Regions from separate parts of the Homo sapiens genome. Here regions 1, 2 and 3 are each linked to region 4. The links come from fine-mapping of genetic effects on gene expression. A gene starts in region 4. Each other region holds a variant in brackets. All regions are shown on one strand. Distances are between the middles of the regions.

Region 1 (8,106 bases), 41 kb after region 4:
AAGAGCATTGTAAAATGACAAGCTCTCTCAGCAGTGCTCGCTATGCATGACGAGGTTTTAATGAAGATGTGTGGACTCAGGAGCAGTGAATACACTCGCAGCAGAAACCCAAATGCTGGTGGTGAGTTCACCTGCTGTTATCATTTCTTCCTCTTGCTCTGGGAAAATCTCCTGCTCATAAGGTTTGTGCCACAGGTTGGTCAAATGAGGATGCTAGATGAGATCCTCTCAGCCTTGCTGTTCCTTGGGTAGGACACTTGGTGCACCACTCAGTACCTGCCAACGCTCAGCCCCTCTTAGCCCTGTGCTGCTGAAGTTGTGGCTGTGATGTGGCCCTCAGGGTAGAGTGTGCCCTGAAGAGGAATGGATGGGATATTGCCCTCCTTTTCAGACGGACATTGGAGCCCCTGTCAGGATCAGCCAAGCCTAGCAATCCGGCTCCTCGGGTGGCTAGGAGTGGTCCCTCTCTCTGGCCACCCAGGCTGGAGTGCAATGCCACGATCTTGGCTCACTGCAACCTCTGCTCCCTGGGTTCAGGCAATTCTCCTGCCTCAGCCTCCCTAGTAGCTGGGACTACAGGGGTGTGTCACCACACCCAGCTAATTTTTGTATTTTTAGTAGAGATGGGGTTTCACCATGTTGGCCAGACTGGTCTAGAACTCCTGACCTCAAGTGATCTGCCTGCCTCGGCCTTCCAAAGTGCTGGGATTACAGGCATGCATCACCACGCCTGACCCCATCTTCTTCATTCTAAATGATATCAACAGGAATCAGGGGTTGGCTCTGGAGGAGACTGATTAAAAAACACTCCAGGAAGACGACAGAGTTCCTCCCAACTGCTTTCCTTGACAGCCCTGCTCCCTGTGTCTGCCATTTCTCTGCTGGCTGCTCAGTCCATCAGCAACCAAAGGAAGATCTGGGGGATTAGCTCTATAACCCTGCCCACAGGAACCTGAAGAAAATTGAATGTGGGAAGAAAGGGGCCCAGATGTAAAAGGAGAGAGTTCAGGGGTGGGATTTCTTTCTTTCTTACTCTTCTTTGGTTGTTTCTGTTTGTACAAGATGTGTTTCCTCCCTCAACCTCATCCAGCTGTCTTCCCAGCACATTGAAGAAAGGAGGGAAAAAGCTATTTAAATTTATACTACTGAATTTCTGTAGGACACTGAAATATTTCTGAAGTTAATAGGGGAGTGCTGAATAGTTTGTTCCAAATAATTACAGAAAAAAAGTACATTGAAATAATTAGTAGTTGCTACTAGAACATTCAGCAAAATGAAATGACATCTTTGCATGTCTATTAAGCAGCACTTTATTTTCAGTTTAGGGTGTTTTGGATGAAATTAGATGGTAAACATACTGCATCGTTGAGTGATTAGATGAACTAGTATCATTTAGAGTTAGACTAGCATCATCATCAGCTTTTTTCTTTTCCTCTTTAATAAAAAAAAGTTACTGTGCTCTCCTGTTAGGCAAGATTTTAATAGAAATGGGACCAACTGCAACCCTTGAGACTTCAGCTTAAGTGGCTTAGGTGTAATCTCCCTGGATGCCAGGAAAGACGTTAAACAGAATCTGATTATTCCATATTTTCTAATTCTGGGATTCTCTTCCTACTCTGCTTAGAGAATACATAAAAGCTCCCACACCACTGGTAACTTTAAAAAAAATCCAAATTTATAAATTTAGAAAAGGAAAGGGAGAGACTTTATTTCTTATAGAGGGTTACAGCCTGCAAGAGGGCCATCCCCTGGGCTGAGAGACCTGCCTCGGCCAAACCCAGGCAGGCACTTCACAGGAGGATTTGCTGGACTAACAGCTTTATGCTGAATGGGTTGGCTAAACATACCTGTTTAACAGGTGACAGGAGGAGCTATGAATATTCACGAAGGTGATCCCGACACACACGTACTGAACAAACATGCATGTAACATATGACCCATGTTCACTTTGGGGTGGAGACGGAGCATTTAAATGTATTACAATTAGGTCTTATTTGTCAAAAGGTCTCAGGGCATGAAGGCACGCAAGTGCACAGTCTCTGTAAATCAGCCGGAACCACTGCATGGTCAGTGTTCTTACCTGGAGAAAGTTACTGAAATCAGTCCCTGTCTAATCAAAGGTGTTGTCATGGCTGGTGAAACAGGGGTCTGTTAGTCAGCCTCTGCGAGCTGATGAGTTGTGTATGTTTTAATTTTGCTTATCTCAAGGCCAGTGCTTGTTTAGCTGCTAGAGAAAAAGAAAGAACCTTGTGGCAATTGGAACCTAGCTTATGCTTTAAGTCTGGGGTGCATGATTTAACTGCTGCCTGGCACGGCCTTAGGTCCTGTTTATCATTTGAAATCTTGTTGCCACAAAGCGTCCGTTCCATCTGTCTTATGGTCTCTGCTAAATGCTGGTTGGTTGTTGTATCTAAACGCAAAAGGGAGGGGACGCAGCACAACGTGTTTGACCTCCCATCTTGCTGTGGCTGGGAGCTAAGTTTTTAAGGTTTTTCTGGGGCCCCATTTGCCAAGAAGGGGTCCACTCAGCCTATGGCAAGGGCTTAGGATTTTATTTTTAGCTTACACCACCCACCTCTTTACTTTCAAAGCAGAATCTGATTTGCCAAAAACAGAAAATAGTCTTAGTCTAATGAGAAAAACCAAATTTGCCTTTAGCTCCACTCCTAGCCACTTTTACATTTCTCCTCTCTATTAAAAAAAATTCAAAAACTATTGACCAGGAGTGTGATTTCAGGATTTTAATTTATGGCAGGTGTTTAAGCACTAACGCCCTTGCCCCTCTCCCCTCTGTGTTCTGTCTTCCTCTTCTCCCTTTTGCCCCATCCTGGTCCTTCTGCCCCTCTGTGCCCCTTCTTCTAAGTGCTCCCCTTTCCCCTCTTCTTTCCTCACTCCAATGAGAGAAGAGGAAACAGAAGGAAAAACAAACGGACAGACAAGGAGTCCAGGTGTCACAACGGTGCCACGCACACTCGAGTGTGAGCACTGCATAATAAAGCATTGTTATTTTTTACTGTTTAATACGCTATTTTGGATGAATATTTAGGAGGCAAAATGGACTGAGAAAAATCATATGAGACTGTTCTACTTTTCTCTGATATTTTATTATTGTGCTCCAAGAAATTTGTCAGCTCGCTGCTTCCTCATTAAAAAAAATTAAAATGCTTGGGAGTTCTGAGATTCCATCTTGTGCAGAGAGGAAAGAGGAAATGGGGGAGAAATGACCCATGAGAAATGACCCCTGATTCATGGTGGGAAACAGCAAAGGAATGAGACAGCTGGAGACCACGGAGCTCCATAGTTGACTTGGGGCTGCCATGTTTATTTTCTGGCCTGGCGCTTCCTTAGCCCAGAACACTCACCTCTCCCTCCCTAGGCTCGTTTGTCCAGGGTTACCCATTAGGAGGCGCTGCCTGCTACCATACCCTTAGACCCCCGGGTTGTGCCTACTGAGCTCCAGGAGAAGGGGATACCATTGGCCTTTCCTGCCCTGGAAGCTGAGCTTTCCATGTGTCCTCCAATGGGGCAGCTGAGCAAGGTTCTGATGCCCTCATAAGAGGACGCATTTACACTCGTCACTTTTGCTTTGTAATATTTGCTATTCAAGTGGATCCCTTCCAAAGACCAGTTTGTTGTTTACCCCAGAAGAGTGACACCAAATTTTACATTTAAGACAAAAATAAAAGGAAGAAAGAGCAAATAAGCTATGGAATTTATGTGGGGGCGGGAAGGGCCTTCCAGGACGCATAGAGCTGGCTGTGCCATCTGCCTCCCCTTAGCTTCGGTGCCTCCTTGACTCCTTGGCCTGCTATCAGCCTCACCTCTGACACAGGGGTGGCGATGACAAGAGCTAAGGCCACTTCTGCAGCCAACGCTTGGGCCTCCCCGCAAGGGAAGCTTTCTTTGCAACATTGCTCAGCTCTGTGAGTTAGTGGGGCCACTTTCCCCTTCCCTCCAATGCTCCATTTTCTCTTACAGGTCATGTTCCCTTCAACTCTGCCTTCCTCTCATCCTGCACCCGTGGCTTTGGTGGACTGTGCTCCTCTGCTTGTTCTTCCCACGGATAGAGCCCCATCAGCATACGGATTTGTCTTTTTCTTGCAGCGCTGCATGGATGCAGCCATTCCTCTGTATCTCCCCTTCCCTGATCCTACCTATGGTGACTTCTTCAGTTGCCCCACTTAGACAGTGCCTCTCTTGTTGAACTTGATGCAGGGGCAGTTCAAATCTTAATCACTAGCTTGCCTCCACACAAGAGGCTCTCCTGCAACTCAGTCGCACATTTCCTCCTGGGATAAGCTCTGGACCCCGTAGCCACAAATTCAGGACACTGTTTCCTAAATGGCAGCAAGGCCTCTTGGCCATGCTGGCCTGCCCTTACTGGGGCAAGAGGGGATTTCAGCCCATGATGCGAAAGAAACTGAAACCTAGTCATGGGTGATGCTTGGAAACATCCCTAGAGGCAGTGCTGCCACTCAAAACTGCCTGCCTCACTCATTGCTGACTGCCTGCCTCCCCCACTGCTGACTGCCTGCCTCCCCACCCTCAGCTCTGAAAACTCATCTCCACCCTAAGACAGTAGGAAGGTGTGAGCACTTGCCTCTGCCTGTTCCACAACCCCAGCCATGGCTCTGTGGGGCTTCTTTCCCAGCCCCATCAGCCTCGGCTGTGAGGGAAGATAGTGTGGCTCTGCCAGGTA[G/A]CAGGTGCTGCAGGAAGGAACAGGATACAATTTTGGTTATATAGGGCAGCAAATATACTGCAAGCCCTCAGGGAAAAGCCACAGCCTCAGTTCCCAAACCAGGTCGGTTCAGAAGCTTTGTGCTCTGGATTTATAGTGTCTGTATTGAGCCAATTTAAACAATTTCAAGCAACAGGACCCATATGATAAATTGCATGTAACTCATCCTGTAAGAGAGAGAAGAGGCTTGGATTGAATTTGAACTTTTAGGGGTGGAGGGTGATCCAAGGAGCCTCAGAGTGTTCTCTCATAGCCATTAAAACCAACAACTAGGCAAAAAAGGACCAGCCTATATGTAAGCAACAGCACCCGTGCCTTGGAAACAGGATAGAGGCAGGTGGGTAGTCCCATAACAAAGGCATGGCTGTGGGGTGCTTGGGGATGGCTCTGTGGATCTAAGCCTTACCAGCAGGCTGGATTTGAGGGAGTGAAGTAACCTCACCAAATGTAATAATAATAATAATAATAGTATCTATTAATAATAGTATCTGTGTGGTTTTGAGTATCAAAAGACATAAAATAAAATAGTACTTAATATTTATTATGTACTTAATTTGTGCCACATACTATTCTAACTGCTTTATATGTTCATGATGTGGTTCCCAGAATATAGTAAGTACTTAATAATTACTGAATGTCTTTTTTAAATAATGACAGTCATAAAAACACTTTTAAAGCACACATCATGCGTCAGAGCTCTGTTCTAAATACTTTATATATCGACACACTTAATCTTTGTAACAGCTCTGTGAAGCAGGTACTATACTATCATCCCCATTTTACAGATGAAGAGACCAAGATGCAGAGAGGCTAAGTTAAAGGATTGCCCAAGGTGAAGAGCTGTTAAGAGGTGGACCTGGAATCTGAGCCTCCGAGATGCCCGTAAAGGCCGGTTCTTAACTACTGGATGTCCTCCAATCAATACTGACTGAATTCCTTCTAAATGCCAGGCACTATTCCAAGGGCTTGGAATACATTAGAGCTCCACACAGACAAAAATCTCTTCTTCACCTCCTCGAGAGGGAGACAGACAATAAACAAGTCAAGTCAGTAAAATATCTACCTTGTTAGAAAGTGGTCAGCAGTAAGGAATACAAATGGAGCAGAAGAGGGGAATGAGATGTTTCAACCTGGGGAAACTTTGGAATGTCGGATCAGGAAAAGCCTCGCTGAGGAAGTGGTGTATGAGTCAGGACCTAAGGAAGTGAGACAGCTAGCCCTGCATCCAAGGGCAAGAGCATCCCAGGCAGAGGCAGCCCGTGCAAAGACCCTAGGACCTAGGTTGTCAGAATTAATTACATTGATTGGATCCACACGCCCTCCTCATCTCAAATATCTGAGCTTAGCAAACATCTCAGCACCAGAGTTGAAGGCACAAGGGTTTGGAAGTAGACTTTGAAATGTCCCTTTTTACTTACAAATCCAGCTGGTAACCTCTGCAGGTTAACAGGACCCATTGCTGCCATGAGCACTCATGCAGGTGTGAGGACCAAGTTTGCGTCTTCTGCTTGCAGATGGAGAGTGCGAGAGAGGGTCTAAAGCTGAAGACAACCTTACTTAAAATCACTTTGATCCAAGGATTGTAGCCATTTAGTGCTTATTGATTTTTCTTTCCTATTTTTAGGAAGGTGGGAGCATGCTAATTAAACATTTTTGAGTAGAACTGGCTTCCAGGGAGGATGGCTTAAGAGCCCCAGAGAGCAGAATCTTTTATTTGCTTTCCACCAGAGGCCCGAGGAATGCAAGAGCCAGTGGATCTGCATGTTTCACACCTCCTGGCCACCCAGGCTCTGCATCAGGGCAGAGGCTCTCTGAGCCCCGTGTGGCCTGTGCCTCGCCTTCTATCCTTGCCTCCTGTGAGGAGAGGCATCAAGAGGATGGGCAAAGAGAAAATGTTTTTAAACAAGAGATGAGGACAGCCCCTCCATGTCTATTGGAACATGGCTCTAGGAAACGTGAGTCTGTCAAGACCAGACCCCTCTAGAACCTCAGCTGACCCCATACGCTCGACTGAGGGTACCTGGCAGATGGTCACAGTTAGCCCTGCCACCAGCTTCTGGAAGGACACAGGGCTGAATGCCAGGACACTGCTGGCTGGACCATCCCATCCCAAATGTTCTCAGCAGCACAGTCCAAGAAGGTGCCTTCCCCAGAGAACTCTCCAGGGTTCCCGGGCCGAATGAGGCCCTTGAGTGCTTTATCACAGAAGCAAACACACAACACACCAACTTACATTTCTGTCTCCACAGATTTCTTTCCTTTCCAATTTTACATGTATCTCTTATTCTGTTAAGGGTCCAATGGTATTTTATTATACTTTTAACGATAACAGTAACATTCAGCCCGACACTATCTTCCTTCGCTTAATGGATTATCTTCAAACTCTGAAAGGCATATATTATTATCCCCATTTTCCAGATAAGAAGGAAGGCTTATACATGTTACATACCTCATTTAAAATCAAAAGTTAGTAACTGGCAGAGCTGAAGTTTGACCCAGCTCTGAAGACTCTGCAGCACACACTCTCAGTGTGATATTAACTTTCCTGTGTCAGCTATCCAAGATCTGAAAATGTATATACCTATATATGTACATCTATACATATCAATACAATTAATATACATGTATACTGTAGGAAAAACAAATACTTTTTCATGTTACCACATATTATAAAACAGATTGACAAGAGAAAAGCACACATATGTATTTAACACAAATTTTATATAACGTGAGAGCCTTCAGAAATAAACACCTCCCAAAACAAGAGAATGCGTGCGTTTTTCTGCTGAGGTCTGATGAAGAGTGGACAGCCGCGGGGAAGTGTGATTGGACATAAGGGTTTGATCTAATGGCAATAAACTGGGGATGGAGTTAACAAGGCCCTGTTTGTTCAGATTCTGCTCGGTGTTAAGGTGTCTTCAGAGATAAGGGTGCTCCTTCCCTCCAGGTAGAGGAAGGGCATCTCTGGAATGAGGGATCTCATGACCTGCTTCAGGGGAAAATGACTTGGGGGAAGTGAAAGCAATCTTCCTGCTTCTGCTGTTTTCTCAAATGCCAGGGTGCTATGTTTTGGAATAGTGTGTCGTTAACCATAGCAGTGCTTACACACACATATACTTGCATGCATGTACGCGCGCGCGCGCGCACACACACACACACACACACACACACACACACAGAGAGAGAGAGTATGGTCGGCTATAGGAATGATTGGAAAGAATTAAGAGTGCTATACGCTGGGCAAAGTTGTATGGAGCAGGGTATAGGAGGTGAATATGAGGCATGAAATGTACTTATTGTGGGTGGGGAATGTTAATACCTTGTGCTCCGAATGTCTCACGAGGACCCCAGTAAGAAGGGGTGGGGCT
Region 2 (8,106 bases), 730 kb before region 4:
CACTCAAAAATTTCTACTGTAAATATTTTGGTACATAGCCTCATGCGGCACAGCCTGTTGCATGCACCATAACAGATCCACTTTGACATAAAGATGCCCCAGCTCTTAAGGCACACAGATTCTCTTCTTAGGATTACTTCTTTCTAGTGCAACAAACACATCCTAGGTGCCAGGAGTTGTGCCTTGCACAACTGGGAATAGAACAACAACAACGAAAAACACAGTCCCGGTCTGCATCAGATATACTCTGTAGAATGACCTTCCTAAACAACACACATACAAGTTGGTGTATACCATACGCATAACTTCAAATGTGGTCCTGCTACTAATAGACTATTTGAAGTTCAGAGGTGCTATGCCTAGGTCTGCTGATGAAGGCCACTTGAAGGGACAGCAAGGGAGAGGACAGGCATTTGCCCACCCTCTGTTGTGTGTCAGGCTCCTTGCTCTGCATTTTCATCTGCACCACGTCATTTAACCCTCCAGCCTGGGAAGACCTTTAGAGGTAAGGAAATTAAGTCTCGGAAGAATTAAGTGTCTTGACTAAATTCACAGCCACTCAGTGGTACAGTTGAGACACGAATCCAGGAGGCAAAATATGCACACTACCTTCCCTTTTAGGGTTAAGTATCTACATGCAGAAGCTGCAGAAATCTCAGGAAAGGAAAGAGCAGGTGCCATAGGTATCTTCCCTCCTTGTTGTCACCTGCCCCAGCCATATGTAACTGAATTAGCAACAACGTAACAATATAACCTGAAGCTCACTTAATAGTTTTGCACTAAATAATACATTAAAATAAATAAATTATCCAGACAAACTGTAGGAATACGAAAAGGCATTTTCACATGATTGCAAATCTCAACGTTCCTAAGCTGGAGACTGTATTTGTAGTGGTGTGCTCCACAGCAACAAAATGCCCGAGATTAGAAATGCCAGCGCAATAGCAAAGGGAAAATTGGCTGTAGCTAAGAATCACATTCCTTCTGTACATTTTATTTGGAGCCACCGTGGACCCCAAAGATGGTAGAAGGGCCTGATTCCAATCTGGCAGGGACGATGTGCCAATTGGTATCAGTCTGTCCAATCTGTCTTACATAAGCCTGGAGAGAGGCCGGTGAGGAGGAGGTGCTGCCTGCGCCTGTGTGCGCCCAGGCGGTCACCTCCAGAAACATCTGCCCCTGCGGTTCCACAATAGGCATGGTAGGGATGAAATGAAGGCCGGCCCTGGCATCAGTTGCTTTTCTATGGGGCCAATTTGCAATGTAGATGCCACAGGCTCCCTGAGGCCCTGAGGAACCTGTGGCCTTTCCAGTCCAATTTGGCTCTGTTGTGCTCAGTTCGGAAAAGTTGCACTTGGTTTAATGCCTCAACAAGAGGCATTTGATGTGTGCGAGCACCTGTAACTGTTGGGGCAGGCTGCTGTGCCAGGAACAGGGAAGACAGGCTCCACACAGCTTGCAGATTGGGAGCAAGGGGGCTGTCTAAGGTCAGTGTGGGCTCATGGGGCACTCCCAGAAATGCATGGCATCTCTCCCCTCAGGAAGCATCCTTCCGAAAAGTTATGCAAATGGGTGATCTGTACTACAAAGTGGGGCAGAGGGAAATTCCATTAGGAAGACCAATGAGAAAACTACTCCAGTGTATAGATAGCAAAACTCTTCCACACTGTGGAAAATAACCAGTTGACAACACCTGAATTCTTTAAGGTCAGAAAGATACCTTGCTACCTGCTTATAAGAAGAAGGGATATTTTCCCATCTCTTCTCACCACCCTGAGAATAAGTGAGATCCACCTCGCTTTTGTTCGTGGTGCAGTTATATGGCACAGCACGTTGTGTGTCCCAAGACAGATCCAGTTTGACATAATGTATGCCCCAGCTCTTCAGGCACACTGACTCTCTTCTTAGGAATACTTCTTTCCAGTGCAAGAAACACATCCTAGGAGCCAGGAGTTGTGCCTTGCATTGGAGACAGAACGAAAAACCACGTAGCCCCTGTCCCCTTCAGGTTTATTCTCTAGTATAGGATAGAGATGCATAAAAAAGTATATGTATATATTCTATTAAAATCTCAGAAGACAGAAAAAGTCATAGTTCGGATACTTTGGGAGCTAAAGTAATGTTTCCTGAAAGGGATACCATCTGAATGAATTCCTGAAGAATGAGAAAGAGTGGCCAAGGAGAAAAAGAATGTGAAGGCTACTGCAGGCAAAATACAGAACATAAGCCAAGACTTAGAGGCGTGAAGCAGGCAATGACTGAACGGATCCATTGCAATTCTACCTTCCAGCAGTGTGACCTGTAGGAATGGTGGGAAATGGGGCTGAGAAGTAGGGAGGAGAGATCAGGTTACAGAAAGCTTTTTGTGCCATGACAAGGATCTTAGATGTGAAACAGTCAAGGACTATAATAGTTTATATTTTACAAAAACCTGCCTGTCCTCTGTGTGGAAGATTTGAAGATGCAAGGTTGGAGTTAGGTGAGGCAGGACAGGAGGCAGGGAAATGAGATAGTGAATTATGGCAACAGTTAAGGCAAGAGATAGTGAGGTGTATACCTACACACCGTATACGCCTAGTGATAGACAGACTGAGAAGAGGACAACATCAAATTGGAAGAGCTCGGTGAGAAATAAGAAGGTCTTAGGTTTCTGGCCTGCATTATATGGAACAGGTTACATCATAGATATTCACATACATTCAAACATACACACACACACACACACACACACACACAAGGTTGTGTTCCTTGGTCTATCCAAACTCCCTTATTTAGCTTGACAACATTACAGAAGGGGTATTCATGAATTCAACAGATATTTCCTGACCACGGCTTCTGTAGCTAGTCTTTGTGTAACTTCCACCCAGTGGGGAAGACGGTGTGCCTGGTTATCGTATTGAGGAGCTGAAGGTCACTGGTACCAAGAGGTCAAGTTACAAGGTCAACATAGATGAGGTAGAGTGATGTCACAGGTGGATGCCACCTAGAAATGGCTGCTGCTCAGCCATCTCTCTTCATCCTGAGTTTTCTTTTGCCTAAGTGAGCAGCCTCTCTGCGGTGGAACACAACTGGCACGATCAATATTAAAATAAAGGGTGGGGAGGGCAGGAGAGGAAGAAAACAGCCACTCAAGTCCATAGAGGTAGGAAAGATTGATCAATGGCCTCAGGAACAATCCATACTAATTATGGTGATAAAAAGCTGTCAGTCAATACCCTGGATATTAAATTTAGTGGATTGGAGACAACAGGTCTGCTTTCATTTCCCTGACCATTTTATTTATTGAAACACTCAGATACAAATGAGCATTCAGTGCTAAGATTACATTATTGTTTCACCTGCTTTGAACTGCAAATGCTTTGATAACTGAATGGAAAAAGCTGTCAAATTTCCCTCTGTAGTTTCTATGCAGAAGTCTTCCCTCACCATCTGATGAAATTCCATTTTGTAAAGTCTGACAGTGATACTCGTCATTAAATCACAGCTGATAGCCCACCTCACATATCAAAACACAGCTCAGTGTCTGTATATGTATGCGTGGGGGTGGGGCGCTGGTAGTGAACCCTGGAAGGAAAGGAGGGATTCCCTTAGCTAGGAGACAATAAAGCCTTTCCGAAGACAGCAACAGCTGATAATACCTTGCTGTAGAAAGTTGTGCTTCTGTGAATATGGCCATTCGAGTAAGTTTGTGCCCACATGCCCAGGGCCAAAGGAAATGAAGAAATGGATTCAAAAGAAGCTAATGGAGATGGCCTGCTTCCTGCCACCCCAGTTCTATAGCTGGTAATTCAACTGTCACAGAAGCATGTGCTAGTGGGTGAAACTCAAAGGGGGCTTGCATAATGCAAATTCAATCTGCTGGATCCTCTTTGG[G/A]CCTATGTGTCCCCCCAGTGTGATGATCCGCCTGCCCACAGTCAGATCATAGTGGTGCTGGCTAACCATCTTCCAAATCAATCCCTGATCTGGGAAAACAACATCCAGTGCATACTTTATCAATGATGCTGATCAATACCACACAAAGATACTAAACAAACTCTGTTTAGATCCCAAGATTGCTCCCACGAGTGACTGCCATGGGACACATGGGTGTGGTTACCAATCAGACAGCTTTCATTTGGAAAACTTCTTTCAATATGTTAAAAACATGCAAATATAGGCAGAGAAATGTAAAAAGGTCTCTCATAGTGTAATAAGTTACTGCTTTTGTTTTTGTTTTAATTTGGAATTACTGTTTCTGTGAGAATGCCTATTTTGTTCACGATTTTAGTCCAGTGTCTCAAAGGAGAAGTTTAGGGGGTGGTGAGTAGAAAGGGATCTCAATGGTGCAAAGTGGGGGAAGGAAATGAAAGAGGAAGAAAAGGATGGGGTAGAGCACAGGGTGTTAAGGTTTTAAGGAGGCTCACCAAGACTAGGAGGCATGGCGCCCCTACTGTTTCAGCATGGGAATGCAGTGAGGCGTTCAAACCACCAGTTGTTACAATGCTTTTTATGTGAGAAAGCACCTGACCTTCTCCTCAAAGGGTACATTTTGTATTATGTAGGTACTCAGGCTTGTTATCCGGAAAGTAGCAGGGTCCCAAGAAGACCTGTTTCTTAAGTTAAGACTTGCTTTTCTTCTCGGAGCTGTCCTGCAGTGGCAGAATTTAGTAGATTTCAGGGAACAGAACCACTGGGAGGGAGTCTATAGACCTGGGTTTAAGAACAATACCCACTGATAACCTACCCGGGGCAAGTCACTTCACCTCTTTGTCCCTCAGTCCTTTAGATTTTAGAAATTAGACTACATCACTGTTTTCCAGTTTTTTTGTGTTGTGAATCTGTAGTGGGTCATGAAATCAATGGAATGATTTTTATCCGTGAGTTTTTAAAATGAAATAAATAAGATAAAATAGAAAATATCAGCATATATTGAACATCAGAAGAATAAGTTGTGTGTCATGAGATAAAAAATATTTGACCACCACTGGATTAGAAGACCTCCAAGACACTTTCCAAATGGAATAATGTATGAGTCTCTGATTCTAATTCTCAGCAGACTGCCACCAATCAACCTGGAGCCAACTACCTACAGCTCAAGAGAGAGTTTCCAAGCTCCCTTTCTTGGTCAGCAGAGTTTTTCCCCCTTTATCTCTCATTTACAATTTGATGTTACAGGTGTTGCTACAATTTCAGTTTTGATAACACTGAGTTAATTAAGACATGATCTCTAAGAGGCAGGTGGTTACAAGGAGATAAGCAGCGGCTTCTGCAGGCAGTAAACAGCTGGTGCTCCTGACCAGCTTCTGGGGATTTGCTCCTTTTATAAAGAAGACAAAACTATCGCTCCCGATTAAACATGAACATAATGTTTGCACAAATATTTGGCAGATTATTTGGACATTGCTCTGGTTGTGATCAAAACAGTCCAAGCTGCAGGGCTGCTGTATACAGGTTGTGCAGGTTGTTCACTGCACAAGGGTGCCTGGCCAAGGAAGCATGTGAGGCTGAAGTCCAGGTACTATTTGCTTGTTAAGCTATCAACCCCAGGTTGGGGCTACATCTCCTGACGGAATTCACATAGAGATGCTACAAGTTCACCACGCCTTGTACTTGTGGGGCTATATTTGCCTACGGGGGCAAGTTTCCCACTTCTTAAAAGGCACTTTATGGGCTAGTAGCCAGACTTGCCTGGAGTTGAAATAGAAGACTGAAAAGGCAAAGCTAAGACATTGGCATTAGATCGGGACAGGGACACTATCTGCAGGCAACTGAGGTGCGTGGTCTAGAGCATTAGTCTCGTCATTCAAGCACGTGGGTAGGAGACAGCTGCCACCCATGAAGCATGCACAGAGGTGGCCTTCTTTATAGGAAAAGCACAGACCCCAGAAGTTTCAGAATAGATGAATTAATGGAGATGGCCGCAACGCCAAAGGCTCTTCACACAAAAGATTCTCTATGGGATTCTTTAAAATATTGGACTACCTTTTTTGCATTTAAGATATTATTAGATTTATCATGAGTCACAATTTTGGGGGAATATACTAATTACATCAAGCACAGCATGTTCTTTCATGCACAAAGTTACACTGTTTGGCTCTGATTTGTATGAAGCAGGCATTATCACTTTTAATTTTTGGTAAACTAATGATATAACTACTGATATTTTAACAGTTACTAAATTTAAATCAGTCAACACCTCATAATTAAAGAATATCCTAGCTGTTTTAACTTTCCACATCATGACAGATTTATTTCTAGCAGGATCAATGGATATTCATAACAATACCTGTTACAGCAAAATACTTGCCACGAATCTTTCTTTGCCTTAATTGGGCAAAAGCAGAACTGGTAGAATATTTTAGTTTATTCCCAAGGGTAAAGTTTGCCTCAATTGCAAAACGGGCATCACGGATGAGTCCACTTTAGTGTGATGAGCAGCCTACCATCTGCCCAAGTGGGAGGAACTCAACCAATGCCGGAACCCTTTTCCCTCTGGCTCCTTTATGGAAAAGGTCCTCATCACAATGACCTGCATGAAGCTATCAGATCCAAGTATTTGAGGAGAAGCCCTTTCATCAGAAGTTCACGAGTGTTCACGAAGTCTCTACTACCTTCCAGGCTCTATGTTCAAGACATTCTCAAATAGAAAGCTTTTTCCCAGGCCAGCCTGACCTAGGAGGTCATATCAGTGTTATTTACTCATTATGATATCTCAGTTGTTATGTCAACACAATAGAAGTTACAACTGAGGTATCACCAAAGAAACCCATAGACTTTGTTTTACTTGAAATACTAGAAGAGATGGAAGTCGTCTTTCTGAGGCCTGACACAGGACGGACAAGTGACATTCCCTGATGAGATTTAGAACAGTGAGCCATCAGCACCCAGGAGCATCCTGGCCTCCAGTGCAACACAGACTGAGTGTCCCCAGCATCCTGGCCGACGTGGCACCAACAGCCAAGTGAGGCTAACTCAGGATCAGTGACCTGCTGTGGTTCCAGTGCCACTCGACCAGGTCAATCACACTCCCAAATGTGTGTTCCCTTTAGGAAGGACCATTAGCAATGACACGACCACCACACACACAACACTTGCGTGCTCTCTCTAGAGAGCTGAGCTGTTTCTGAACCTGCAGAAGGAAGGGGTACATATGTCTTAAGCAGCCTCTCTGTAACCTAAATTCTCAGGAATTCCATTTACAGGAACATTGGTCTTACAGATCTACCTAGAGATTAAGTCCAAAATAACTGCTGGAGCTTCACGCCACCTGAAACAAATCTATTCAGCTGGGTTAGTAACCCTTGGTCATAGTCATATCATGGGAAGCTGCAATTTATTTAGTGCCTACTATGTGCTAGACACTTAGTGTCTGCAGCACCAGAGAACATCCTCTGAAACCTGTAGACTGTACACTCCCAGGGCCAGCATAGCCTCCTTCTGATGCCTTCTCCTCTCAGACTCTCCACAGGTACCCTTGGTCACCCTGTTCCTCTCATAGTGAGCTGGGTTTTCCAAAAACTGCATGATGATTTATGGCTTGTAAATGTCGACTCCCCTCCCCGCAGGCCCTAGACCAAGGCAGGCAGGAAGATGAAGAGTGAGGAGACACTGGGGGAAGAAATCAGCGCTTCTGCTGGCCGAGCGGAGCCTGATTGCTCCTTGATGGGTCAGTAATTAATTGCTCCAGAGTGGTGGGTCTGAGACTGCAGAATTGTGCCTTGTGAATAGGCCCTAGAGGGCGGGGGGAGTTACATTGCTTGTAAGATCATTAGGCGAATATTATAAGTAATACTCCATGGCTCCCTCATTAAATACTAAGTGAGTCATTCAATCTTGGGGTTCTATTTCTATTCCCCATTCTAAATGCAACTTTAATGATTTAAAATCCCTTCAACCCAATTACAGCCCTGTATTCTGATTAGGAACTCTCGCCCATTGTGAGCGGGAACCATTATCCTGCAGCCTATAGCAAAATTAGCACCCAGAGAGGTTGCACTAGGAAATAAATCTTTCCCTGACATTTCAAGACCAATGCCCGGCCAATTACAACACACTCTGTTACTCTAGTAATGTGAAACTGAGTTGCTCCTTGCAATCAAAGGTCGCTGGTCAGAAAGATAAAGAAGA
Region 3 (8,106 bases), 940 kb before region 4:
CAGGTGCCGACGGTCACTGCTTTCTTTGACTAGGAAAGGGAATTCCCTGACCCCTTGTGCTTCCCAGGTAAGGCGATGCCTTGCCATGCTTCGGCTCGCACACGGTGAGCTGCACCCACTGTCCTGCACCTACTGTCTGGCACTCCCCAGTGAGATGAACCCGGTACCTCAGTTGGAAATGCAGAAATCACCTGTCTTTTGCGTCGCTCACACTGGGAGCTGTAGACTGGAGCTGTTCCTATTCGGCCATCTTGGCTCCTCAGCTGTTAGCCACTTTTCTACTGCTCTCTATTTTACGTCTGTGAATACAGTCACATGGAGGTTCAATAAACGTAAGTTGAATCATAGGTTGAATCTGAATAAGTCTATTGACTTCACTTTTTCTATTTCTTTGTTTCATTTTCTTGCTTGTGGCTCATCGCTGTGGTGCTGTACATCACTAAAGTGAGTAATGCAGCCCTCACTCTTTCCATGATAAAAAGGTACTTTTTTTCATCTGTCATGCACCTTCCCATGTAATGCATTTCTTTTCATCTCCCCCTCCACCTCCAAAGTCTACAGCCATCCTCTGATGACAGTTTGCAAGGCCAGAATGTGAGGGGATGAACAGGGTGGGGTGAGGTGGGGAGAGGAGGTCAGGGGATTGGGATGGAAGGTGGGAGAAGCATTCCCCTCCCTGGCTTCACAGCTGCCTTCCTGAAAGGCTACTGCTGTGGTCAGCACTGTCCTCAGGGTGACAGCAGTGCACGCGGCACCCATTTTATTCCACTGCTTGCTTGGATGCTTAGTCATAGTCATAGTCTTAATGAGTCACTCACTCTAGGCTAGTGAGAAAATTGGAAGGGATGTGCAAAGACAGGCAAGAGACGCGGGAGATATTTGCAGGGGAGGACTGGAAGTGGAAGAGGATGTAAAGGGACTGTGGAGAAGGGGCTGAGAAATGAGTGAAGGACCCCCTATGATGTTCCACTGAGGGGCATCCTTGTCTTTCAGTTTATGCCTGGAGATTCAACATGCACCTCACAGTTTTCAAAGCCTTTGTAACATGCATTCTCCATTGACTGTTGGAACAACTCTGTACGGTGGATAAGGTAGATCAACTGTATTGTAAAGAAGAGGAAATTGAGTCTAAATGAGGCTTAGTGAGTCACCCAAGACCAAAGAGCTACTGGACGTCAGGCCCTAACCTGGACCCCAGTAGCACCCCTAGAAATCACTGTGTATTGGCAACCACTCATGCAGTGCCATGCCTATCCTCCTCCTTTGGAGAACCTCATGAGCCAGTTGATGCGTTTGACAGAATATCTGAATTATCATGTGCTTGGTGTCTGACTCTGCTGCTGAGGGGTCATCAATAAGACCCTTTTTATGAAAACTGCTCAGTCAGTTGAAGTAGTCTTCCTATGGGTCCCAGACTCACTCTCTACCCTTTGCCTTTGTGCTGATCCCTGGGCATTGAGAATTTAACGATACTTTTCTTTCTTTCTTTCCCCTTCCCAGCCCTCCTGGGGGAGTGAGAGCAAGGGATGAGCAAAGCAAAGGGAGCTTGAAGTCTCCCTGGCTCCCAATCAATCACCTCCTTCAATAGCCTTCCACATCCTCTAAGACACTTTACAGACAAGTGCTTCGGGTAATGCACAGCAGGGGAAGGGGGCCTCTGGGATAGAGGGAAGGGGAGACAAAACATAAAGCAAGGAAGATACTGACCTTGCAACAAAGTTGAGCTCGTAGGCTCATTTAGTTCTAAATCGGTTGAGGGACACACAGGAGAGAAAAATGAGAACAAACACATATATTATATACAGTGCTATATATTTGTCATATATAGTTTGTATACTGCCTTTCACAGACATTTCTGGGGGATTATATAAAAAAAAGGAAGACAGAAACCAAAGGCGTAGGACAAGGTGCGGCAAGAGAAACGCTGACATGCTTTATGTTTCCATATTGAATGCCGTGACTGGGAAGGCAGGGAGCTGGTTACGCCATACATATTCTGGTGCAGTTGGATTCACTCTTAGCTCATGCTGAGCCATGCTACTAACTGGATAACAAAGGACTAAAGTTTCCTTCCAGATGAGACTTGTTTCCCACTTCCCCACCCCCATCGTTTCATCTTAGGACACCAAATTCAGAAATTTTTGCCCCTGGCACCACGGTAGGAACGAACGAGCTCCCCAGAGCACTGTGATTCAGGAGTGCGGGAGCAGAACTCTCAGAGGCCCCTGCAAGCCCTGTCACCTTAGCGATCAGGTGCTTGTGATGGGAAGGACTAACCTGCTCCCGTTTGGCTTAAGTATTCCCAGACCGCCGACTATGGTCTCTTGCACCAGAATTCCTCACTTCTCAACGTCTAGGCCACTTGGAGAGAGCGTGCAGTTTATGCACAAGTTGGTGGCAAAATGATGATAATTTTGCTGCCTTTCTAACTTCATCAAGAAGTTTGTATATTCGCAAAAAGTACATGCTGCTTTCCAACCTGCCCCAAGTGTGCTTGTTGGCTTTTAATGGAAACTGACATGGAAAATTCCCTAACAAACAAACAAATTCATATTTGTCAAAAGACCTCATTGATGGTGAGCCTCAATAATGAACCTAGGAGCCACAATAACATCCGAACTATTGGCTGCAAATACTCATCTCACACAGGAATGGGGTTTGCGAGCTCCACAGAATTATGTTACCCAGGCAGCATTGCTAGTGATGGACTCCTCAGGAATGATCTCTCAACTGAAGCTAACAAATTAAATTGGTTTCTGATTGAAACATCCTGCAAACTTTTTCTCCCCTAGAGATTTAGCATGTTAAGGCTCCGGGACTTCTGGCATTAAAGAACATCCCCACATGTACCCCACTCATCTTGGTGTGACCCACTCTTTCTAAACATATTTGAATACATACTACTACTTTTCCATGTCCTTTTTAGAAAACCCTGGACGCCAGAGAGCTGGCAATGGTAGAAACGTCCCAAAGGAGGCACAGGGCAGATGCTGATTGATAGACCCATAGGGTGGGGGGCATGGGAAGTAGACATTGTAATTGCTACATGTGTGCCTGCTGAAAAGAGCATATTTATGACCTGCACTTCACTGCTTTCCTTGTCATAAATGTCATCTATTCAACTCTTACGAGAACTGTTTGTTTGCTGCTTCTCCCTATTCTCATCCTGAGATGGCTTAAGGAGAAGAAGCCGGGGAAGTATACAATCATGATAAAGCCAATGGCTGAACCATTTCATGCAACCAAGTCAGGAGAGAGTAGGTCAAAGTGGGGGGTGGCGGGGGGAAGACTACCCCTGTGAGGATGAGGAGTGCTGTGGGTGGAGAGCAGGACTTGGGTTAATGGGAAACTGAGGGGGAGCCTTAGATTTAGATTTGCAAAGCAAGGGAAGGAGGGGTCTGTTCCTTCCTAATCCTGGTCTCTGTTCATGCAGACAGACGCCTGCCAAAAAGGCAAAAAGGCATGAAAAATGCAAGGGGCTCTTATGATCATCCCTGTGTGAGAGATGCCAGACACATCAATCACTCAAATCACAGCTCTGCCCATTCCAAGCCACTGGCTCGGGGATCAAGGGCGGCTTTCTCCTTCCCAGCTCTCTCAGATAAAGCTGGGATTTACTATTTGTGCCGGGTAGAATGCAGGAGGATGTAATGGGTGAGCAGAGATCGTGTGGTGAAGCAGTGCAGGCTCGTGATTCAGAGCAAGCCACATACGCTAGCACCGAGGGCACATGGCTGGGCCATGGGATTATCCCAAAGTTTTCAGAATATAAGGAATTTGTGTTCTTGCAAATTATCTGTCAAATGCCTCCCCTTACTTCCCCATCACATTCAAGAGTGCTTGTTAACATGAGGGATTGGGGAGACAGGTTTGAAAAATCTCAAGCTCAAAGAACTTGATGGGGTATGAAGGAATTTGCCCAAAACACAACCGGAATTTAATCCTGTGGCCTTTAGGGAGAATCTGCGTTCATCAAGGGATGGAGCCATCATGAGAGGCCCAGGGCCCTGCCTGGTGGCACCACCAGGAAGGCAGGCTCATGTCTGCACAGCTGTCTGCTAGCAGGGGCAGGCATCAGGGTTTACAAGGGAGCTCGCTCACTTTCTTCTGATATCAATACAGTAGCCAGATATGTGACGAAGGTGGGGCTCTTCATGTCCCAGCGACTGGAGACAGTTTTGGAAAAAGGAAAATTTTACACTAAGCCAGTAAGCAAAGACTGAAATAGCAAACATTCCCCTCTGAGTTCTTGACTATTTTACCCAATTATGATTCCCACAGTCAGCTTAGGAGCCATCATCACTGAGAAAAAAAAAATCAAATGTCATTTTTGGCATTCCAAAGTATTTTTCTCCTATCTCGGGATCTTTTCCATTATAGAATGAAACATGAACATTCTTTTTCATTTTCCTTTTCCCACTTCTGAGATCTACTTTTATACATGTACTATACATATACTACTTTGTATACATGTAAACTGTATCTCTTGTTCTTTCTCTTTCTGTCTGCCTCCTCCCTGTCTCTCTGTCCCTCTCTCTCCATTTCTTTCTGTGTCTCTCTCTTTTTTTTCCTCCCTCTCCATGTCCACTGATACCCTGCTAACCTCTGACCCTGGCCTTGAGGGGCCCTCCCACCCAGCTCTCCCGTTCTGCACCCTCTCCCCTCTTCTTGCCCAGCTCAGAGCACAGTCTCACCAAATAGCATGATGCTGGCATTGGTGTGGCCCAGCTTGTTGGAGGCCACGCAAGTGTAGTTCCCATAGTCATGTTCAGAGACATTGAAGAAGATGAGTTTTGAGAGGAAAGGTCTGTTTTCCACTTTCACCCCTTTCTTTCCTTCAATCAGTCTGAGAGAAACAAAAGACAAAAAAGAAGAAAACAAGATGGTTATGTGTCCTCATAGGAAGAAGATAGGCCCAGGGATTCCTGGTCTTCTCCTTGCCCCCCTTTCTG[A/G]CATCATTATAACCATTATTTGATCCACTCAACCACACCATAATGTAGTAGTAGTTCACAGACAGTGAGTGACACGTTGTTTCTTGATTTTCACACATGTGCCCAGGGGCACTCCTACCAGAACATCTGATCTCCCTAGCCTCTCATCCTTGCTTTGTAGTCTGACAGCAACACCACAACAAATAACCCCTGCCAGCTGTGTGGCATTCAGAGCAATACGATTCACACAGTAGGTGGTTCAAATGTGTGGGCCTGATGATGATGATGGTGATGGTGATGATGACAACCATGCAAATGAAAAACTCAAACTTCTGAGAGAAGAGCCACCTGAGGAATTTGAAAGAAAAATGTTTTTCGAGCACCTGGTAATCTAATTTCTCCTGAAGCACCAGAAGCATTGCATTGTATAGATAATACTTAATTTTTTGGCTATGAAGAGGAGAAAAATCATCATTTTCTCATTTTTCTCATCAGGGGACTCTGAAGGGCTTGGGAGGAGTGATCTGCCCAGACTGTTATAGAGGATTAGTCTGGAAGGATTAGAGGTTCCCAAGAATATGTCCCTTTAGAGCCAGGACAGTCTCCCTGAGCTCCACAATGGCAGCCCAGTAAGCCACAAGGACTTGCATTGGTCTGGGGGCCACTACAGAAATGCCACAGGGAGTTAGTTAGTTGGGGGAAGTGAGGTATGCTTATTAGAACCATGGATTCTATTACCAGGCAGATAAAAGGGTAAGGAGAAAGCTGCTATTGGAGTCAGTAGGCACATGTCCTCCTTCTCAGGAAGTTGTTAACAGCAATTCCTATGGCGATCATGGATACCACCTACTTTCCTTTGCAAGATTCCGAAATGTCCATTTCTTAGAATGAGCTTTAAGCCAACCTTTTACTTTTTCCCTGAAACAAACAATCTGTAATCCTTGCCCTGAAGCTGATTCTATGCTATGGGAAAGATGAATACTCTTGGGGCAAAAAACCCCTTCTTGATGAAGGATCTCAGGGAATATGGACACAAAGCTAAGTTTCCTGTTTAGGGCCTGGCTGGAGCACAGCTTGTAGCAAGCAGATAATAACATGGCGGGAGCACACTGGAACAGATTCAGGGGACATGCTTTGGGGCAAATGGATGCTATTGAGAAAAACAAACAGTACTCAAGGCTGTTTGACAATGATGAGGAAATGCTTTGCGGACCGCACAATGGCATCAGTATAATGTATTTCTATGGAGTTAGACATAGATGACTCTTGCCCATCCCTGGGTCACAGTGTTTTTTGGCATAGAGTGCAGCTGCTTTGTCATTATCTGAAGACCTGTCTCTGTGGGATTACAGAATAATTTCTCCACTCCTGCAACTTACAGTAACCTTGATCAGAAAAGAGAGGCAGGTTCTGGCCGGAGTTCTCACCCAACATCTGCCTCCAGGGAAGTCAGAAGATAGGTTGGACAGACTTGCCTTGCTTTTCATTATGTAGATGTTCCTCTGGGAGCCTTCCTCTCCAAACGCTAGGGGCAATGAACTGGCCTGAGTCCACGGCTTCATTAAAATGCTAGCACTGTCCAAATGGAATGAGGCATCCGGCTGTGCAGCCACAGGCCACTTTTACATTTCCAGCTTGCTATGTATACATTGATCCTCTAGGGGGTGCTGTCCATACCACTCACCGGGAGGATTCTGCGAGCAAGTCAGGCTGATTGATCCCACTGGCCGTTTTGACACCATTCGTCCACCATGGGGAGGAAGCTTTCCCATCATAACCAAACTGTGAATGAGATTTCAGCTCTGCAGTGGGGAGAGACTTAACTGAAAGTAGGCTCCTGCTTGACAGCTCTGAAATGTCTTTAGCTAAAAACAGCACAGGGGGCCAGCAGCACTTTGCAGGCTTTGCAGCTCCTGGGAGGACACGCTTTCCCCTTCTCTGTGCGGGCACACATCCCCTCCATCCCGCACTGCTTCCAGGCCTCAGTTTCTTACCAAAGCTGTGGACTTTTCATTGGTCAATGCCCCTGTTGGATGGGTGGCCTTCCGTAGGTATAGCATTCCATTCCTCTTCCTTTGTTGGATAACACATACAATAGCGTGCAGTTGAGTCATTCTGGCATGTGGCCAAAAGACTTCTCACCTAACTAACTCTTGAGAAAACTGCCTGTCCTCACCACACAGTTTCCTTTAATCTGCCTTGGTAGTCTGCTCATCTCACTGAAAATGGGAGATGGGCTAGAGCTGGCCTTCCCCCCAGGGCAGACACAATATGCCTTGGGAGACCTACCTGGCAGACCCAACTTGCTGTGACCAGGACCTCAGAGGCAGGGATGCTGCAGCTGAGCTGGGTGCCAGGAGGAAAGACAGCCCCTGTCTCATGCCAGCACACTGGAAATAAATAAATACATGTGCAGGGAAGGGAAAACTGACTAAACCACTAAATGGAAAGGGGAGAAAAGGAGAGGCCATCAGAAGAACTGAAAGAAAGACAGAAACAAAGCTGCCTGAGCCAGGGGCCTCTGAAGACTGTCCCTGGCCCTGCCAGCCTGCTCTCTCCTCCTGGGTGAATGGTGGCAGGGACAGCTGTCCCTATTGTGACCAGAGATGCTGCACAGAGGAGAGCTCTCTCATCCTTTTACTCGCCATTGGCCACTTTTGCTTTATTTTCCTCTAAGATTTTGCTTTCCCTTATATGTATTTTTTCTATTTTTCTCCAATAAAGAATTGGAATAATAGGACGCAGCTGATGACTTTTCATTAAGACCTAGACAATTGAAGATTTGGGAACTGACCCCATAGCTCAATAGGTTTTTTGTTTGGTTTGGTTCAATAATTAATTTTTATGCCTCAGTTTACTTCTTAGTACAATAAGAAGGTCGAAGAGGAAACGCATAAGTGAAACAGAATTTCTAAGTAAGGAAACCATATTTATCAGAAAAACACGCTCCAGTCTGCTTGATTCTTCTTTCTTGGAAGAAGGGGAAAGCCAGCTCTATTTCTTCATGAGTTTGTTTTTCCCCTTTGTGTCTTAGTTCTTTCATCTGTAAAATGGGCTACATGAATATAATACATCTCACTAGAAGCTGCCAGAATGTGTCCTTAAAAATTTTTTTTTAAAAAAACAAAACACTGCTTTTCATTTGGGAGGATTATGATAAAACCCAGTGAATCTT
Region 4 (8,106 bases):
TTTTTTGTTTGTTTGTTTGTTAATCTTTAGCATTCTAGTTTGTGAGCAGAAGCAGATCATGAGCTTGAATCCAAAATACTAGGAAAAAAGCCAAATCACAGACCTGTTCATCCTACCCAAAGTGTGCCTCTACTATGATTGAATGGCAAGAGCATTACAAATCTCTCCAGCATGTGTTTTCTGTACACGTCAGAATCATGTGCCCCATATTGATTCAGAAATTCTGCCATTTCTTGGGATGTTGAGAGAGCTCACTTCATCCCAAGGGACAAGTTTTGGCTAAAATCAACACCAGGTTGTTTGGCCCATCAAGAAAAGGAGCCACTATCAGCCTGGCAGACAGTACGCAGGCAGAGAGCAGAACCCAGGGAACTGCCAGGAGGCAATCTAGACCCTATCACCTCAGGCAGGGAACCAAGAGACACACCTGAAGACACTACGCAGGACGCCTGAATTAAAACCAGCGCTATGGAAGGAGGTTACTGAGAAAGAACAGAAGTCAGGGACTGTACATTGCAGCTGATAAGACGAGATCTGGGGGCTTATATTTGGCTTTAAGGGAACCAAAAAAGGGAAGAATCAGGACCAGGACCAGGCTCTGTGCCTGGTAACTAAAGCTGCAGTTTCAAGAATGGTCTTCATGCAGCGAGACCTGCCGGCCAGGGCAGACACTCTCCAGGCACGCTTGAGCGAATGCTCAGACGGCCATCCCCATTGGTGGGGTGGCCTCCTAATACAAAGGGCGGAGGTGAGCTACATTTGTGCCACTGTGCACGCCTTGCCAGGAACTTGCCTCAAGTTGGCAGCCCCAAGCCTGGCAGGCAGGTTCCATTCGATGAGGCTCCCTGACGCCCTCCCCTTACTGCCATGCTTCCAAGAGCCCACAATGCCTATGTCAGGCCCAGGGTCCCATCATCCCAGGCTGATGTTTCCACTTTGCCAGTAGATATTGCTATGGTCTCGTCTGCCACCCCTGAATATCAGAAGCATTGCCCAGCTCAAGCTGCTGCTGGCACCACGTGTGTACTGTGCATGGCAGGAACCTGGCCGGCCTGCCCAGCCGAACGGCGCCCACCGCCCACCTCCCGGGTGCTGCGCGAAGGGGAGTGTGAACTTTGCCGAGGCACCTTTTCCTTCTCCTCTGCCCTGTCTGTGTCTCAGGCTAGCTGCTAAGCGGATGCGGGATGTGAGGAGAGGTGAGGAAATGAGAAAGGTAAGAGAGGAACCTAGCCAAGCAAATCTGAAGGTGTTAAAAGAAACAATAATCCTTCGAAGGAGAAATGGTCGGTTTTCTAGAAAGAGGAAGCTGCAGCACAAGCAGCCATTCCTTTCAGAGGCTCTCAGTGGCAGAAGGTGGGCGGTGGGTGTTCTGCAAGGGACAGCGCCTGATCCAGTTCTGTAGCGTCTGCTCCCGGCAACGAGATGCCTCCACTTAATCAACCCTGGTGTATCTTAGGGCCAGAGCCCCAGGGAGCTAATCCCCCCTCCTGTCAGCGTCACTAATCAGTGCTGATTCCCTCAGAAACCCCCCTCCCTACCTAAGCTGGATCTTGGTTGCTGGTTGGGTTGTGGGGAGGAGCAGGTCAGGGAGGGGTTCCTAACCTGCCATTAGCACCAGACACCTTTTCAAGAGGCAGGAGGCACAGGAAGCAGCAGCTCTAGGAAGAACCAGCTTAAAACAAAAACAGAGGAGAAGAAAAAATCGCCTTGGAATGTGTGCTGCATTCTAACTAGTCCCACTGGGTCAATGCAATAGGGGTGGATTATTGCAGGCAAGACCTGGGCTGCCTCAGTAATTCTGCAAGTTTGATAAGAGATAGCTGGCAGACTTCAGCTTCCTTCCTCTGAAAGAGAAAACAGACATCACCTTTGCCACATCTGACTGGCATGCAATATGCGGGTCTTTGGGGGTCGTTCTGCGTTAAAATTGGGCAACCTTGTTCTATTACGACCACTGAAGCCTGTTCAGGGCTGACTGGGTGAGGGTAGCACAAATAAGGCCATCATTCTTTTTGAGAAATTCCGGATTCGGTAGAATGTGATAAGGTCTGAGATAGTGCTGTCGCCACCACCCCTACCCCAAGTTAGGAACAAGACCACAAAGTCAGATGGCACCTTAGAGAAATTGGCACCACCACTTTGCTACTCATCTATTCAGAGATGATTCAAAGTATGAGCAAATATTATGCTTCCCTGCATTTATTCTGATGAAAAAAAAAATCACGTATGCTAATTTATATGTAAATTCAGTATGGCCCTGGGGCTCCTGGCATGCAGCCAGCAGGGCTGTTGATGGTGGAAGTTTGGTCATTGTCTCCAGTTTGATGTTACAGGCAGAAGAGACATGGATCTCGGGACAGATAGAAATGACTGAGGGCTTGGGACCTTCCCTCTCCCTACCTCTGACCCCTCACCCTACCCCTTGCCTGCTTAGTTTTCATTTTTGCTGTCAACCCCCACAGAAACTGCTTTTCCGAAACTGCCCGATCCTGAACTCAGCTTCCCCACTTCATTCTTGTGCACCCAGAACAAGCAGGGGTGCACACACACGCACGCACACACACACACACTGATACTGCTTCATATTATATAAGAGGAGTCAATCGAGGATGCCTCCAAGTTGATTCCCTTCACTCAAACACCCACCAAAGCCCCTAGGGGACAGCAGGGAATCCTGAGGCCCATGCCTCCTGGGGTTGGGTGCAGCAGACGACATCATGGACATCCCTGCAAGATTCACCACCTTGGACTTCCTTATCACCCGACACAGATCCCTCCTGTCCCCACCCCTTGCCTTCTTCATCGAGCCCCAGTCAAGGGTGTACACATTTGATCCTTCCAGCCTGGTCTCTCTGCCCACCTTACGTGGATCCACACTGCAGCCACTGCAACCTATGTCAAGAGGACAGCAGCAATCCCTAAATCCTAACCTCGGAGAAGAGCCAGCAGGACTACAGCTCAGGACTCAGTCCAGATCAGGAGAACTCCATATTGCAGGGGGAGAAGAGGGCGAGGGGGTGGGACTCCCCATCGTTTTTCACCGGGTCAGAGGGAACTTTCCTCTGGGAATACAACTGCATAGGACTGAGCCTCACCTCCCAAGAGAGGGCTCCTCCTCCCGGAGCCCTGCTGGGCCACCCTGGGAAAGTTTCTCAGCTTGTCTCGATCCTTACGAGTTTTAGCTGTGTTTAATATAAAAGAGGCAAACTAGTTACCCCAAAGGACAGGGCAGGTGGGAGCAAGAAGATTAGTGGATAATTCTGTTGCTGGAACGAACAGACGTGAGAGCCGGGATGGGGTGTGGGGAGGCACGGTGCAGCAAATGGACTCAAGGTGGAGGCCGATTCCAAATGCACAGAACACAGCACTGGGGACATCAAAGCTTGCACTCAACTGCAGCCCCCAGGGCTCCCGGCTCAGCCGATAAATAAACAGAAAATTAGCATTCGACTCTTATTGCCTCTCTCCCTTCAACTTCGAAAAGCTTTTTAGAATTTCAGAGCCCCGGCTCCCCTCGCTTCCACACCTCCGACCCCAGCCACAAACACACCCCCGAACACATTTAAAACTAATACAGTTGTCCCCCACTGCTGCAAATTGACTCATCCCTTGCAGCTGGATCGCTGACCAGAACCTCACAGGAAGCACCTGATTCTTTCTAGCCTGCATTTTCCCCTTTGCTCCTTTTAAAAGCTTTGCAAGTTCGCTGGCCGATATTTAAAGTTTCCTCTTGTAATTTCTTCCCAGTCGCATAAGCAACACATTAGCAACCCTGTTGCCCTCCGAATCTGTCATTTCCCCCTGCTTACATGTGTGCTCCGTTGTGTATGTGTGCAAGAATGTGCATGAAGCCAGGGAGCCTTGCACACAAGCACAGTCCTAACAGGAGCACCAAACACATTTTACTTATGCACATACATATTCCCCCATTCCGGTAGCAGCCAGAATCAAATCAATATTCTCACAGCCTAGTCGGGAGAATGAAGTCCCAGCCATGCTGTCTAAACGCTCTCTCCTCCACCTGCAAACAGCGCAGCACAGCCGACTCGGGGAGTCTGCAAATCTTATAAAGCACACTGTACAATTCCTGGGTCTACCGAAGGCAAATCAATAGCAAGCTCTTACCTTGGAAGAGACACAGAGCAGCCAGCCCCGTGAAGATTGCCCAAGAGATAGAATTGTGCATTTTTGGCTGGATGGTTTTCATGATTTTTTTTCTTCTTCTTTTTCTTCTTTTTTGTCAGGTTCGGTTTTTTTCTTTCTTTCTTTCCTGATAGATTGTGTTGCTCTCAAGCTTGTGCAAGGAGATTTAAATCCACTGTTTTGCTGAAGGACACAACAAGAAAGCCGAGGGTGTGAGAGAGTATGACTTCTCCGTAATTATCTCCACTCATACTCTGGCACTGAGACACATTGTACAATCTGGCCCTGGACAGCCCTCCTACAAGCTGCAATCATTGGTTCTAATCCAAGGATTGACAGAGCTACAACACACGCGCGCGGGCACACACACACACACACACGCACACACACTCTCAGGAATCATTTACTGGGCAAATCAGGCTAGCTGATTAAAGAGACAGGAGCCTGGAGAGATAGAATGATAAATGCCACTTTGCCCCTTCTATATTACTTTCATTTTTTAAACTGACAGTCTCTGAGTCTTCTGAGTATCAGAAAATCCCTTTCCCCCTGGCATTCCCTGGCCTCCTGAACTCAGATTCCCTTTGCACTGGAAAAATCCCATAGCCAGCCATGGCTTATGGGAAATTTTAAAGGGACATTTTCATGCTCAGTGAAACTTGTAAAGATGAGGCAATTTTCATTTGTTGGTACCTATTTTCCCCTCCAATGGAAATATCATTCAGTGACAGCTTTTTTTTCTCTCTTTCATCAACCTTTCTACTTAGTTGCTTTGAAAATAGTAAATAACTTTCTATTTTCTCCTCCTGTCACTTCTGTTTCAGAACATCTATGTTACTCCTCTTTTTCATTCACTTTTTAGAAGTCAATTTCCTAAATTCATCCATGTGTATATGATACAATGGAAAGGTACAAAGTACCTGGTATTTGAGAAGAAGCTCTATAGTCTGAAGATGGAGAACCTTCTTCAAAAGAAAACAAAGCAGGAGTTTATTCCCCATGACTTGGTCAATCCACATCCACTAAAGCAATCATAGAAGCATCTGTGATTTAAACTGCAGCGAGAAAGATTCAGGGTAGACATGCGGAGGGGCTTTCTGAGTGTAAACTTTGTGTAGTTCCTCAGACAGTTGAAGACATTAACCTCCTTGGTGATAGGAAAGAATAAAAACCGAACAGAAATAATCTAATGGACATAAATGATTTCTTAAGAGGTCTAATTCTAGGGCCTGGAAGTTTATTCTAATCTTTGGCTTCCCCTTATGAGAAGCAAGTTAGAGGATGTGAACAAAAAATCTAGAAAATGTAGCTCCTGGCTGGGCACTGTGGCTCACGCCTGTAATCCCACAACTTTGGGAGGCCAAGGAAGGCCAGTAGCCTGAGCTCAGGAATTCGAGACCAGCCTGGGCAACATGGTGAAACCCTATCTCTACTAAAAAATTCCTTAAAAATATCTGGGTTTGGTGGTGCGCACCCGTGGTTCCAGCCACTTGGGTGGCTGAGGCAGGAGAATTGCTTGAGCCTGGGAGGCGGAGATCACAGTAAGCCAAGATGGCGCCACTACAATCCAGTCTGGGTGACAGAGCCAGCCCCTGTCTCAAGAAAAAAAAAAAAAAAAAAGAAAAGAAAAAGAAAATGTAGTTTCTCACAGAACCTTCCTTAGCTAATTCTGACACATTCATACCCCTACTATGCCTTGACACACATTTTAAAAATATTCTTCTAGAACTCCACCGCTAATTATTATACTTCCTTGTAACCCCATAAAAATGTTCATGTATTTTCAAACTGCATAGAAGAAAAGTACTCATTGTCTGTTTGTATTTTAGTGTACAGAGGTGAAATGAAAACATCACTGCCATTTTGCACATGTCTAAGACGTACGATTTACCTTGGCTTTTTTCTTTTTTCTTTCTTTTTTGTTTTTGTTTTTGACAGACTCTTGCCCCGTCACCCAGGTTGGAGTGCAGTGGTGCAATCACAGCTCACCGCAACTTTGAACTCCTGGGCTCAAGGAACCCTCCTGCCTTACCCACTATGCCCAGCTATTTTTTTTTTTTTTTTAATTTTCTACAACATAGTAGAGATGAAGTCTCACTATGTTGCTCAGGCTGGTTTCAAACTCCTTGCCTCAAGCAGTCCTTCCAGCCTTGGCCTCCCACAAGTTTACCTTGTGTTGTGTATGAATAGGGACAACACTGCCTGGAATGTGGGATCTTGTGACCTTGAGAGGAAGGGGCCCTGGGACCTCAAGATCTGGGGACCTCAAGATCCTTCTCATAGTTCTGCACAACTAAGGGACCTCAGGCAGGTCCTTTCACCTCTGTGAACCTTGGCTTCTTGTCTATAAAATTGTAGAACTGGAATAATTTATTATACTCCTTCTCATTTTAAAGATGTTTTATGTTAACTGGTATTTTTTTTCTTCTTGCCATTAAGTTCTAATTCACATATCTATCAAAATGTCCTTGATATCGTGAGCTCCCAATGGACAAGAATTTTATCTGTAGATGAGTCTTTTTGTGCGGTGCTCAGCATAGTGACATGTGTAATTAAATGCTTTGGAACAACTGTGACGGCAGGTGATAACAGTGCAGTGCAGAAGGAAGGTGGCTTCCTTTCACCACCATTTCATTTCTCTCCAGAACGATGATAAAGATCATGGGCCACTGGTAAGTCTTTAGTCCCAATCAGGAGAGGTGGACAATAACATTTGTAAATGTCCTTACCCTGAACTGTAATAAATCTATACAGTTACCAATGTTTATTAAGCTCCCAGGTGTGTACAGATAATAAGAAATTAATCATCGGAGTTGATATTTATTGATATTTATTTGCAATGTGCTAGACATGATACTCAGTGTTTTGCATGCATTTTTCTCATTAAATAATCACAACCTATGAAGTGGTGATATTATCATCCCCATTTTATAAATGAGGGCATTGAGGCTCAGAAAAAGCTTGTCCACAGCCACACAACAGTTAAGGAATGGAATCAGGATTTAAACCTGAGCATTTTCATCTTAGATCAACTTCAATAATAATATCCTGTGCTAAATACTGTGAGGGACTCAAATAGATATCAAGCATCCTAGCGTAGAATCTTTTTGTTGCTTTCAATAGCATATGAGATTATTAATAAACATTACAAAACAATACATATGTTGATACAAAACTACAGGAAGACTCATATACTGCTTTCAATCTTAACTGAGTTTCCAATGGTTGGTACATATAATTAATTTCATCAGACAGCACACAATAGGTGGTCATTTTCTATGATAGTTTTGTAAAGTTCTTTGGAGACGGTGGGAGTCATGAATACCGTGAGAGTGACTCTGATCCTAGATCTGAGGCAGAGGGAAGGACGTTGCTGGATGAGAATACCATGAATTAAAAACTAGAGTTAGAAATACACCAAGTATATTTGAGGTTCTAGTGACTTGTCTGAGATTCCCCATCCTACCATTCTGTATAGCAAGAAGAGCTTGAAAATATTTTTTAAATGAACCTTAGCATAATATGATGCTTGGCAGTTACTTTCTGCACACAGGTGAGGTAACCATGTCTGGTACCTGGCAGGCACAGACACTGGGCGTCACTGACATGACTTGTTGAATGAGAGCACGGACTTAGGGCTGCTTTGCTTGGGGTCCAAATCCCAGTTCTGTCCCCTAGGGGCTGTGAGATTAGGTTGAGTCATTTCAACTCCACATCTGAAACAGGATAGCAATTACACCCCCATCCCAACCATAGCCAGACATCCTAACCATCAACTAATTTTCATTAATTTTACTGTTTTTAACCAAGTTGAGATGGATGTGGTCTACCATGTGTCATTGGTAGAAGCTATCTGTGCTTGGGAACTAAGACTCCTGGACAGAGCAGTTTCAGCATTATGCTCTGTGCATTCATTGAGGCAAAATATATCCTCAGGGATTGCCGAACCAGAAGTCTAATTTG

Alleles and levels. Positions count from the first base shown, and alleles are read on the strand shown. Sizes are in standard deviations (SD) of each study's normalised expression.
In carriers of allele A in region 1, the expression in lung of the gene that starts at base 4,399 in region 4 tends to be higher than with G alone (large effect, 0.92 SD a copy in GTEx).
For the expression in tibial nerve of the gene that starts at base 4,399 in region 4, allele A in region 2 goes with a lower level than allele G (small effect, 0.36 SD a copy in GTEx).
For the expression in testis of the gene that starts at base 4,399 in region 4, A is the high allele of the variant in region 3 and G is the other (moderate effect, 0.60 SD a copy in GTEx).

What was found.
Region 1: its variant is fine-mapped to the expression of NTM in lung (TOPMed, PIP above 0.99).
Region 2: its variant is fine-mapped to the expression of NTM in tibial nerve (GTEx, PIP above 0.99).
Region 3: its variant is fine-mapped to the expression of NTM in testis (GTEx, PIP 0.94).

What each region holds. Positions count from the first base shown.
Region 1 is chr11:131,325,444-131,333,549 of GRCh38, reverse strand. No RefSeq gene overlaps it. Among named protein-coding and RNA genes, the nearest start is that of NTM, 41 kb to the left of the region's middle. The variant G/A (reference allele first, on the strand shown) is at 4,700.
Region 2 is chr11:132,096,187-132,104,292 of GRCh38, reverse strand. The region is part of intron 2 of NTM (neurotrimin); the gene reads right to left. Among named protein-coding and RNA genes, the nearest start is that of NTM-IT, 180 kb to the left of the region's middle. The variant G/A (reference allele first, on the strand shown) is at 3,874.
Region 3 is chr11:132,311,292-132,319,397 of GRCh38, reverse strand. It overlaps NTM (neurotrimin), which reads right to left. Exons shown (of 9, transcript NM_001352005.2): 7 at 4,695-4,846. Among named protein-coding and RNA genes, the nearest start is that of NTM-IT, 31 kb to the right of the region's middle. RefSeq lists an enhancer at 1-1,199. The variant A/G (reference allele first, on the strand shown) is at 4,953.
Region 4 is chr11:131,366,908-131,375,013 of GRCh38, reverse strand. It overlaps NTM (neurotrimin), which reads right to left and starts at 4,399. Exons shown (of 9, transcript NM_001352005.2): 1 at 4,126-4,399. The coding sequence starts at 4,207. RefSeq lists an enhancer at 274-936.